Regions from separate parts of the Homo sapiens genome. Here regions 2, 3 and 4 are each linked to region 1. Evidence: fine-mapped expression QTL. A gene starts in region 1. Each other region holds a variant in brackets. All regions are shown on one strand. Distances are between the middles of the regions.

Region 1 (2,605 bases):
GACGGAATGTAGCCCATTTCTCCCAGGGACAGGGGCCGGAGAGAGAACAAGGATAAGGTGATAACAGAGGGTGGTGCTAAGAGATGGACCCTTTCTTGAGGGAAAACACATCTTCCTGGAGCGCTGCAGGCTGTTGAAGGAGAAAGTTCATCTCCTCATTCCCATCAGCACGGGCCTTCCTCTCCTCAAAGCCAACTCTCATTCTTTCCTTGAACCCACAAGAACAGCACACGCTCACACCCCCTCTGCTCACTTAGGTGTTTTTCATGAGCAATTTTCTCCTGTCCCCAGACAATCTAATTGCTGCTTACACCCATGATACCCTGGAGCCCCATGCGGAAGTTGCAACTCCCTGCATTCTCAGGGATGAGGAAATGGGGTGCTGGGGTGGGGGGAGGTCCTGGGGTCTAGAGAGGAAGAAGGGCCCCTGCCCCTCCAGAGGGCATTCGGTGAAGGCAGTGCCTGGGAGGCCAGCTCTGTAGGGCCTGCTCAGTGACCTTGGTCAAGCCACAGCACCCCTGGGCCTCAGTTTCCCCAGGGCCTTCATCCAAACACAACGTTCCTCTCTCAAGGCCAGGGCGAGTAGGGAGGCAAGAGCCTTTCTTTGGAAGCACATGGGGAAAGGGTGGCATTGTTCCCCTGGGGGCCCAGGAGCCCAGCCCGCCAGGCAGCAGCGCAGCAGTGACGTTGTCATAACCCATAACGGCGGAGCAGACTGCCCCCTCCCGTCCCAGCCCAGAGAGTGGGCGGCAGAGCCCCGGGGAATCCCTGGGTGGGGGAGAGGGTAGCCCCGAGCGGTAACTCCCACCTGGCTGTCAGGCAGGAGGCCGGGGACCCCCCAAGCAAACCTCCTACCCACCTCCGTTCCCCCAACCCAGTGAAGACCGGTCTACTAAAGCCACGCCCTCCCGGGTGGGCGGCTCAGGCCACCCTTTCCTGGGTACAAGCTAGAGACAGCCAGCGTGGCAAGGGACTGTGGCGCAGTCTCCCCTACCCCCATCCCTCCCAATGCAAGGTCTCAGAAAGCACAGAAACAAGCAATCCTTCCCCGCCCCCTCCCCGTGCGGGACCTGGATCCGGCGCCCCTTCTTCCCGGCCCGACCAGCCCCGGTCACCGCACCCGCATCGCGTGCTCACCACATTTGCGTCCTCAGCACCGCGGCCCCAGCCCCAGGCTCGGCGCTCAGGCCGCCAGGCTGCAGTGACAGGCTCCACGCTCCCCACCTGGGAGGAGACTGCCAGCGGGTCCTCCTCCTCGCCGGCTGGGCGAAGCCAGCCCCACCTGGCAAGGGACTGTCAGCAAATTCCTCTCTGCATCACTGTGAGAGAGGCATCCCGGCTCCTCCCAAGCAGGGGCCAACCTTGGCCCCGCCCCAAAGCTTCTCTGACCTGCCGGGGAACCCAGGCTGGCAGATCCTACGCGAAGACCCAGGCTCCGCCTCAGAGACCCTGTCGCTACCAGGAACCATCTGCAAATTACTATCTCAAACACACAAGGCTGCCGGTCCCTGGTTCCAGCTTGCTCCAGCTGCCCTGATGCATTGGGCCTTGGCAGCTCCTTTGCCACCTCCCCTCGCCCTCCCTGAGGCATGTCGCCTTTCCCAGTCTCCTTAGTCCCATCAGCCAGAAGCAAGAAAAGCCACTCCACTCCCACAAAGATAGCCCTCTGCCCCGCCCAAGGACCAGGTCCTGGCACCAGCCTAGTGGCTGGTACCCAGCTGCTACCCAGACTCCTTCTACAGCAAAGGAGTGATCTACAATTGGCCACAGCCCCACCAGGGAGGGCCAAGGGAGTGAGCTGGGTCATTTCCGGTTTGCGGTGGGCCACAATCCTGCAGGTATCAGAGTTTCATCAAAGTCCTGCCCACTCTGCTATAGACACTGGTTTTGACCCCGAGGACAGGTGCCAGTGTTTGCAACCCCCAAAGACCAGTGTGCAAAACAAGGGGCAGTAGTAAACAGCCTCTCCCTCCCAGGCAGGGGCCTAGGCACATTTATGTCATCGACATTATCTGGCACTTGCAGTACAATAGCTGATGGGAAAGAAGCCACTGCCCAATGCTCTCTGAAAGTGACTCCCTTTCACCAGTTAGGGCTGTTAACAATATGATAAGAATGCCATAGAGGAAGCCCTGTGAACACAAGGTCATGAGGTGCCAGAGGAGGGGGTCAAAGGCTGGTTATGCTTTCATGGGTTGATTTCCCCATAACCAGCAGCACAGCACCCCCTTCCACACAACCGTATCAGGCTGGCGCACTCTAGTCATCTCCCTCTTCCCCTGACCCCCTGGTTCTCATGACCCAACCACCCCACGAAGACCCAAGGGTGAGCCACATAGACAGACTCTGTCGAAGTCTATCCATTATCCACTCACTCGCCCAGGCTGGAGTGCAGTGGTGTGATCTCGGCTCACTGCAAGCTCCGCCTCCCAGGTTCACGCCATTCTCCTGCCTCAGCCTCCCGAGTAGCTGGGACTACAAGCTCCCGCCACCACGCCCGGATAATTTTTTTTTTTTGTATTTTTTAGTAGAGACGGGGTTTCACCGCGTTAGCCAGAATTGTCTCGATCTCCTGACCTCGTGATTCGCCCGCCTCAGCCTCCCA
Region 2 (2,605 bases), 46 kb before region 1:
CTTTGGGGGGCCAAGATGGGCAGATCACTTGAGATCAGGAGTTCAAGACCAGCCTGGCCAACGTGGTGAAGCCCTGTCTCTACTAAAAATATAAAAATTAGCCAGGCATGGTGGCACGTGCCTGTAATCCCAGCTACTTGGGAGGCTGAGGCAGGAAAATTGTTTGAACGTGGGAGGCGGAGGTTGCAGTGAGCTGAGATCGTACCACTGCCCTCCAGCCTGGGCGACAGAGTGAGACTCCGTCTTAAAAAAAAAAAAAAGATTTATTTTTAAACAATACTACAAAAGGCACACCTTCAAGGTTTTCAATGTTCTCATTTGAGGAATTATTTAGAGCTCTTGATTTTTTAACTTTGAGCGGCTAAACGTTTCCCTCCCTGGACTTGAGAATGAAATGCCAGAAGTGGAATGGATGAGAACTTCTGGAGAGCGGGGGAAGGTCCTCTTGCACTGCCTGAGGCGGGGTGAGGTCCAGGAGCCTCCAATCAGGTGGAGAGAGCAGAGGGCTGGACAGGACTGGATGGCACTGAGAGCACTAGAATTCTCTTCCTGGGCCAGGAATTCCTGCCTCCACCACTAGGCCTGTTTCCTTTCTCCATCTTTCTTGTAAGTGCCCCACCCTGACCTTCCAGCCAATCGCCCTTCTTCCTACTCACAATTAATTCTCTGTCTCTGCTCTCATTGCTTCCCTTCCTTCCACCTCTTTCTGAAGACGTGCTGGATCCATTGTTCTGCTCTCTCATCTTCGGCATCCTCCTCTCTCTGCATGCACCTGCGTCCACCCACACCTCTTCCCTGTAAACTACAACCAGGCTCAAGTGCTTGTTGGTTCCTCTGTAATAAAACAGCTCCTCAAGGATCCACTCTCTGATCTGTTCCCTGACCTGTTTTCCCTCCTCCTTCCAGTAGCTTCACTTCCCTCCTTCCATGCACCTCTGGAAAAAGGTGACCTTCCTTCTCTGCCTCTGTGTCTTGGACATCCTATCCTCGGCCTGCCCTCCCAACAGAGACCCAACTCACCAAAGTCAATGTCCTTTCCTCAACCCCCATTCTACTCCACCTCTGTAGCACTAGAGGTTTCTGGGTCGCCCCACCCTAGAGGGGAGCCTTGTCCTGGCCTGGCTTCACTGAGTCCAGCCCA[G/A]AGGATGCCTCTTCCTCCCGCCTCGATGAGGCACTCCCTTGGGCCGCTTCTGGTCTTACATCCTTGGATGACCCATCTGCTCCCATGACTTCAACTACAGCCTCCATGCACCATCTCCCAAGTTGAAATCTCTAACTCTGACCTTTCTCCTAGGCTTCAATCTTGTTTTTTCAACAGCTCCTTTGTCAGCTTGCATACTTGCCCTGACTACATCTCATCATTTTGTGTTTCCTCTCCCACCTAATGGCATTACTACCCTCCCCAGAAACCAGACCTCAATTTCTCCCTCTTTCTTAACTAGGCCACAACCTACTGACTGTAGCCTTATGATCTCCCTCCCATCTTCCCCTCCCATTGTTTCTCTAGTCACTGCCCCGGTTCAGGTCACTAGCACCTCCCACCTCGACCATTGGAATAGCCTCCTTAACTGCTCACCTTGACTTTGGACTTTCTCTAATGCCATTCACTCTCCATACTTCTGCCTACACACATATATTGTTCTGAGTTTCCAGCTTAAAAATACTAATTGGCTCTCTACTGTCTCTAGATGAAAGCCCAAGATTCTCAGTATGCCAGCCAAGGTCCCAGCTGAGGCCCAGTGCGGTGGCTCATGCCTGTAATCCCAGCACTTTAAGAGACTGAGGCAGGTGGATCACCTCAGGTCAGGAGTTTGAGGCCAGCCTGGCCAACATGGTGAAACCCCGTCTCTACTAAAAATACAAAAATTAGCTGGACATGGTGGCACGTGCCTCTAATCCCAGCTACTCGGGAGGCTGAGGCAGGAGAATTGCTTGAACCCAGGAGGCGGAGGTTGCAGTGAGCTGAGATTGTGCCACTGCACATCACCCTGGTGACAGAGAGATATTCTGTCTCAAAAAAAAAAAAAAAAAAATCCCAACTGATCCTTCCAGCCCAATCTTTTACCCTCCCCCGCCACACTTACCATGAAACCTTGCTTCTAGTCACACCAGATTTACCATGTCTGTGCACACCCTACTCATCTCTGCAACAAACTGGCTCACACGGTCCTTTACTTCTGATGTGCCCTCCACATCCCACATCGCGCCTGTCGAAACTCTTCCTGTCCTCCAATGCCCAGCTCAAAACTATACTTTTCCAGTTGGAATTAATTTCTCTCTTCCCCACATGCCGTCTGCACAGCAATTATAACCCTCCCATTCTGAATGCTACGAAGGGAGTCTTGTTCACCTTTGTTTCTCCAACCAGACCGCATGGGTTTGTGCACGGGGACGCTACTTGACTTATTGCTGCTCAGTAAACGCATTAAGCTGTCTTCTATGACACTGCTCTCAAGAGCTGCTGGATGCACGGTGCAATGCCCTGCCTTCCTGCTTTCCCAGATGCTGGGTCCCTGACAGAGGGGCCTCTGTGATAGGAGTCTTTGGGTAGGGGTGGGGTGGAGGGGTTTAAAGGATGGGCAGGACAGGACAGGTGGAGCACACT
Region 3 (2,605 bases), 51 kb before region 1:
GCTTCTGCAGCTTTGTCAGGAATCAGCCAAGCTGGCCTAGACACCTGGGCCATGGCATGGACCAACGGGGCCACATTTGGCTCGGGGCAAATTGATATGGCCTCCAGTCAGGTTGGCTGAAGTTGAAACCCACAGGTTCTTGGCCTGTGAGGGGAAGGAGCTTAGAGAGCATGTCCACCAGCTCTTCCCCAATGATGGACATGAATAAGGACTGAAGCTCAGTGTTGGGGGTGCACTGCTTCAGACCTAGGGCCAGTTAATGGCAGAGGTGGGGCACGAGTCTGCTGTGGGACTCTGAGGGGGACTGTCAGGCACATGATTCACTCGGGTATATGACGGCTGACTGGAACCTATTGGTGGCAGGAAAACAATCTTCAATCTCTTTCAGCACATGGTCTCTGCCTCTTGGGATCTGGGTACACTAAGCAAATAGGACCATTTCTCCACGTCTTCATGAGTGGCCAGTTTGGGCAGCTCCACTCATGACAGATGAGGACACAGGGCCTCATCTCACACCAAGAGTCCTGCCCCACCAAGAGGATGCAGCTTCTGGCATCTCACTCAGGACCCGATTCCCAGGGAAACCAGGCCTTTCTTATCAGCAAAACGCTGCCCATGTTGCAAACTGACATGTTAGACCTCCTCTCCACACCAACACCCCCAGCCAATGGAATGGGAGGTTAAGATCAGGTACCTACTCTGTGGAGACATTGACAATGGTGGTCCGAGCAAAGTGACTGCTCCAGTCTGAAAGAGAAAGAAGTTGCTGACCTCGAGCCTGGCTCCTCAGTTGCTGGGGGCGCCAGAATTCAAGGTTCCTGGACAAATGCGTGGGGTCTGGAGATGCTTGCCTTTGACCTCCTCTTCCTTCTGGTTCCCCAGAGCTTCTCCCCAACTTTTAACAAAGACATCAGAGGCCTCTTTTCCCTGGCACTGCTGACTGGGGCTCTCGGGAGGAAAGCGAGAACACTTCTTTGTGTGGTATCTCCAGGGCATAATTGGCACATAATGGACACCCAGTGAATGCTTGTTGGAGGCACCAGCCATCCAGCCACGAGCAGAATGATGAAATTAGCAACACTATTACCACTGGCAACGTCCAGAAAAGGCAACACTGCCTCATTCAGAGGAAATCCTTCTGGCTATGTGCATTAGTTTGACGGTTCAGACACCCCCTTATAAAATGTGTCTAAAAATCCTGCATGATATTATCACTGCCAACATACCAGCTCTTGGGATGAGACAAGACTCAGATATTACTC[T/C]AGTAGTGGCATTTGGTGGCATGGACACTCAGTGTGCTAAACTGAATTAATTAAGGTCTACCTCTGGCCAAGGATGAACAGGTAGAAACCTGAGGAATCAGGGGAAAGCTGGTTGCCCCTGGGGCATTTACGGTGCTATTCTGCACCACCCAGTTGTACAGTCTTCATACAGCTCCATTCAGCTTCATGATTCTAAATGAAATACTAGCTGCTATTCATTGAGCACCTACTATGTATATCAAACACTGTATAGGTATGTGGCATGTGATCTCCCAATCCCTAAGACAGTTGAGGAAAGTAAAGCTCGGGAGACTGATTTGCCATATACAAGGTTAAATCACATGTTAGTGGCCAGGTGCGGTGGCTCATGCCTGTAATCTCAGCATTTTAGGAGGCCAAGGCGGGCGGATCACTGGAGGTAAGGAGTTTGAGACCAGCCTGGCCAACATGGTGAAAACCCGTCTCTACTAAAAATACAAAAATTAGCCGGGTGTGGAGGCGGGTGCCTGTAATCCCAGCTACTCAGGAGGCTGAGGCAGGAGAATCACTTGAACCCAGGAGGCAGAGGTTGCAGTGAGCTGAGATCGCGCCATTGCACTCCAGCCTGGGCAACAATAGCAAAACTCTGTCTCAATAAATTAAATAAATAAATAAATAAAATATAAAATAAAATAACATATTAGCTAGGCAAAGGTATTTTCTGGGGAGCAGGTGTGGGTAAACATTGTGGAGCCATGATTTTTCTGTTTTAGAAGCCAAGGTCTCATCCACAATGCTGTTCCCTCCAAAGGGCTCACCCTGTTCCAATGAGTGGGAGTAGAGGTCCTACAAGACAAATTCTGCACCTATGGTGTTATGTCCAACAGAGTGGGTTCAGGGATCTTTGCAGTGGGTCACATGTCACAAAAGGGTCTCCAGGAACGCCCAGCCAGAGTGGGGCCATGAATGAACACTCAGTTCCAAACTGAATTAATACTATGTGCCTGCTGTGTGTCAGGCTCTGGGCCAAACCTGTGACAAAGGAGGAATCGTCTCCAGTCTCCACATGAGAGAAGCGAAGCATGGTTTGTTCAAGTTCACACAACAACAAACTCCCAGAGGCAGGATTAAAATAGATGTCTAGACCCTCAACCCCAGCCCTGACTGGCTTGCCTGGCTGCCTCTCAGGTCCAGCTGCTGCCCCAGGGCCAGCTGAGCTTTGCCTACCCAGAACAGATCCAGTATAGTTGATGGGCAAAATGATGCCCAGGGAGGGGATACAGATGATGAGCACAAAGATGATGAGGTGGTACTGGAACACGATGTAGATGCGCGCGTCGTCCCCACACTTGTTAATCAGATCC
Region 4 (2,605 bases), 55 kb before region 1:
CAGTGATTTCTGCTCTCCCTGTAGCTTCCACTGTTCCAGCGTAAAGCCTCACATCTCTAGGGAAATCCCTCACGTGAGACTGGGCCGGGGAGTTGGGAAGTAAACAAGACTCTGGGGAGAGGGTAGGGAAGCTTCCCTAAACTTCACACTTTATTCTGTGAATGGGAAATATCTTCCTGGGTCGTCACCTTTAAGATGACAGTCTGGTAATTGTGCTGCAAGAATCAGGGGTCTTGAAAGAGGCTTCTGGTGACAAGAAGGAAAGCTGAAGTAGCAGACACCAGACTGGTCAAGGGTGACCAAGCCTCCATGCCTGGCAGGCTGAAGCATTTGGGTTCACTTTTCAGGGAATGTGGATTTGCACTCTGGGGTGGGTTCAAGTGAATCAGTCCTTTTGAATGGACGGCCTGGAAGGAGCTGATTCCACACCACTGAACCTTTGAAAGGCTGAGGACGGGAACTAAGGATGCTCCTCACTCTTGCCCATCCCCAGCAGAGCATGGGTGCTGGTCCAGATGGGTGGCACTGCTGGTGCCTGCCCGTGGCCCCCCGTCAGTCATCTCTGCACACCAACACCTGCAGCATGCTTCAAATACTGCGACTGCTCTTTCCCGGCCTTGGGGCATGTTCAGCTTTTGTGCAGGGCCAAGTAGGGGAGGAGTTAAAGCCCCCAAGCGCAACCCTCAATGAACGGTGGACAGGGAGCTGGTGGAAAATACCCACGATTGCTCACCTCCAGGAAAATTCTGGGGCATGTGCTCTACACCAGCTCCCAGAGTTCCCTGGTCATGAAGCTCCACTTGCCCACAGGGGTAAGTTGCCCCTCCATGCTCCCTTTTTTTGGTTGCCTTTGCATCCTCACTCCCTTACTGGCCTTTCCTGGGATCACCTCCCATAAACAAGCGCTACTCATTCCAAGTCTCAGGGTCTGCTTGGATGGGGTCACCCAAACTGAGACGGTGGGGATACACGGGGGTCTCTGATCTCCGAGAGACTGCAGAAGGGCGAGGCACGGGCCTAGCAGGGGTGGGCAGGGCCAGGTACACTAAGTAGCAGCAGCTCAGCAGGGCCCAGACCACTTAGCATGGAGGCCCCCGCTGGTCCACTGGGCCTTGTTAATCCTTTAGTTTTCAGATGGTGGGAAGTCCAAGAGTCCCTGGGGAGGGGCGGGGCAGCAGAGGGGCAGGGATAGGAGGTACCTGGGCAGCAGCTATTTACCAACCAGTCTGAAAGTTTCATTAGGGGTGAGAGGATGGAGGGTGAGAGGGTGAGAGGGTGGAGGAGCGTGAGAGGGTGGAGCAGCGTGGAGGAGGGTGAGAGGGTGGAGGAGCGTGAGAGGGTGGAGCAGCGTGGAGGAGGGTGAGAGGGTG[G/A]AGAAGGGTGAGAGGTGGGGGCCAGGTGATTGTTACTAGGACTGAAGGGAGGAAGCTTGGCCCCTGCTCAGGTGAAACCGCCCCCTCCCATCTATCACAGTCTCCCTGGACCCTCTGAGGGCTTCTCTGAGGGTTGGAAGTGGTCAGCCCAGTGGGGAGGGACCCCAGCTTCCCACAGTGGGAAGCAGCTTTGTAGGCTACTTACCTTTTGGCTATTCCTGGGTGCAAACCCCAGGCAGTGATGAGCCATGAACATGAAGTTGGTGATGAAGTAGAAGAAGGACAGCAGGCTATGCAGCCACAGGAGCTTGCTCCTGCAGGGAGGGAGGCAGCAGCAGTGAGGTCAGCCTGTGAGCTCCCCAGAGCCCACTGCACAGAGACCCCTGGGCCTCCTCCTACCCTCAGTCTCCTGGGGCCCCCCAGCCCATCACAGTCTCCTCAGACCCCCACAACCATCCAAGTCTCCCCAGACCCCAACCCATTACAGTATCCCCCACCCCCACCCATCACAGTCTCCCTAGACTCCCCCTACCATCACAGTCTCCCCATACCCCCCCACCAGTCTGCCCATACCCCCCACCCACCACAGTCTGCCCATACCCCCACCCATCACAGTCTCCCCATACCCCCACCCATCACAGTCTCCCTATACCCCCCACCCACCAGTCTCCCCATACCCCCCACCCACCACAGTCTCCCCATACCCCCACCCATCACAGTCTCCCCATACCCCCATCCATTACAGACTCCCCATACCCCCCACCCACCACAGTCTCCCCAGACCCCCACCCATCACAGTCTCCCTAGACTCCCCCTACCATCACAGTCTCCCCATGCCCCCACCCATCGCAGTCTCCCCATACCCCCCACCCACCACAGTCTCCCCAGACCCCCACCCATCACAGTCTCCCTAGACTCCCCACCCATCACAGTCTCCCCAGACCCCCCCACCCATCACCATCTCCCCAGGCCACCACCCACCGCAGTCCCCCTGGACACCTCCCCCACCCATCACAGTCTCCTAGGGCTCCCTGCTCCCTCCCACCCATCACAGTCTCCCCATACCCCCCCACCCACCACAGTCTCCCCATACCCCCCACCCACCACAGTCTCCTCATACCCCCCACCCACCAGTCTTCCCATACCGCCCACCCATCACAGTCTCCCCATACCCCCACCCATCACAGTCTCCCCATACCCCCAGCCATCACAGTCTCCCCATACCCCCACCCATC

Alleles and levels. Positions count from the first base shown, and alleles are read on the strand shown. Sizes are in standard deviations (SD) of each study's normalised expression. Not every link is listed here.
As copies of T replace C in region 3, the expression in prefrontal cortex of the gene that starts at base 1,237 in region 1 goes down (small effect, 0.21 SD a copy in GTEx).

The links.
Region 2: its variant is fine-mapped to the expression of TMEM63C in whole blood (INTERVAL, PIP 0.98).
Region 3: its variant is fine-mapped to the expression of TMEM63C in prefrontal cortex (GTEx, PIP 0.94).
Region 4: its variant is fine-mapped to the expression of TMEM63C in whole blood (TOPMed, PIP 0.95).

The regions. Positions count from the first base shown.
Region 1 is chr14:77,180,430-77,183,034 of GRCh38, reverse strand. It overlaps TMEM63C (transmembrane protein 63C), which reads right to left and starts at 1,237. Exons shown (of 24, transcript NM_020431.4): 1 at 1,141-1,237. RefSeq lists an enhancer at 787-916.
Region 2 is chr14:77,226,196-77,228,800 of GRCh38, reverse strand. All of the region lies in intron 6 of TMEM63C (transmembrane protein 63C), which reads right to left. Among named protein-coding and RNA genes, the nearest start is that of MIR1260A, 39 kb to the left of the region's middle. The variant G/A (reference allele first, on the strand shown) is at 1,142.
Region 3 is chr14:77,231,594-77,234,198 of GRCh38, reverse strand. TMEM63C (transmembrane protein 63C) reads right to left here. Exons shown (of 24, transcript NM_020431.4): 7 at 2,469-2,605; 8 at 699-747. Among named protein-coding and RNA genes, the nearest start is that of MIR1260A, 33 kb to the left of the region's middle. The variant T/C (reference allele first, on the strand shown) is at 1,263.
Region 4 is chr14:77,235,703-77,238,307 of GRCh38, reverse strand. It overlaps TMEM63C (transmembrane protein 63C), which reads right to left. Exons shown (of 24, transcript NM_020431.4): 9 at 1,576-1,684. Among named protein-coding and RNA genes, the nearest start is that of MIR1260A, 29 kb to the left of the region's middle. The variant G/A (reference allele first, on the strand shown) is at 1,371.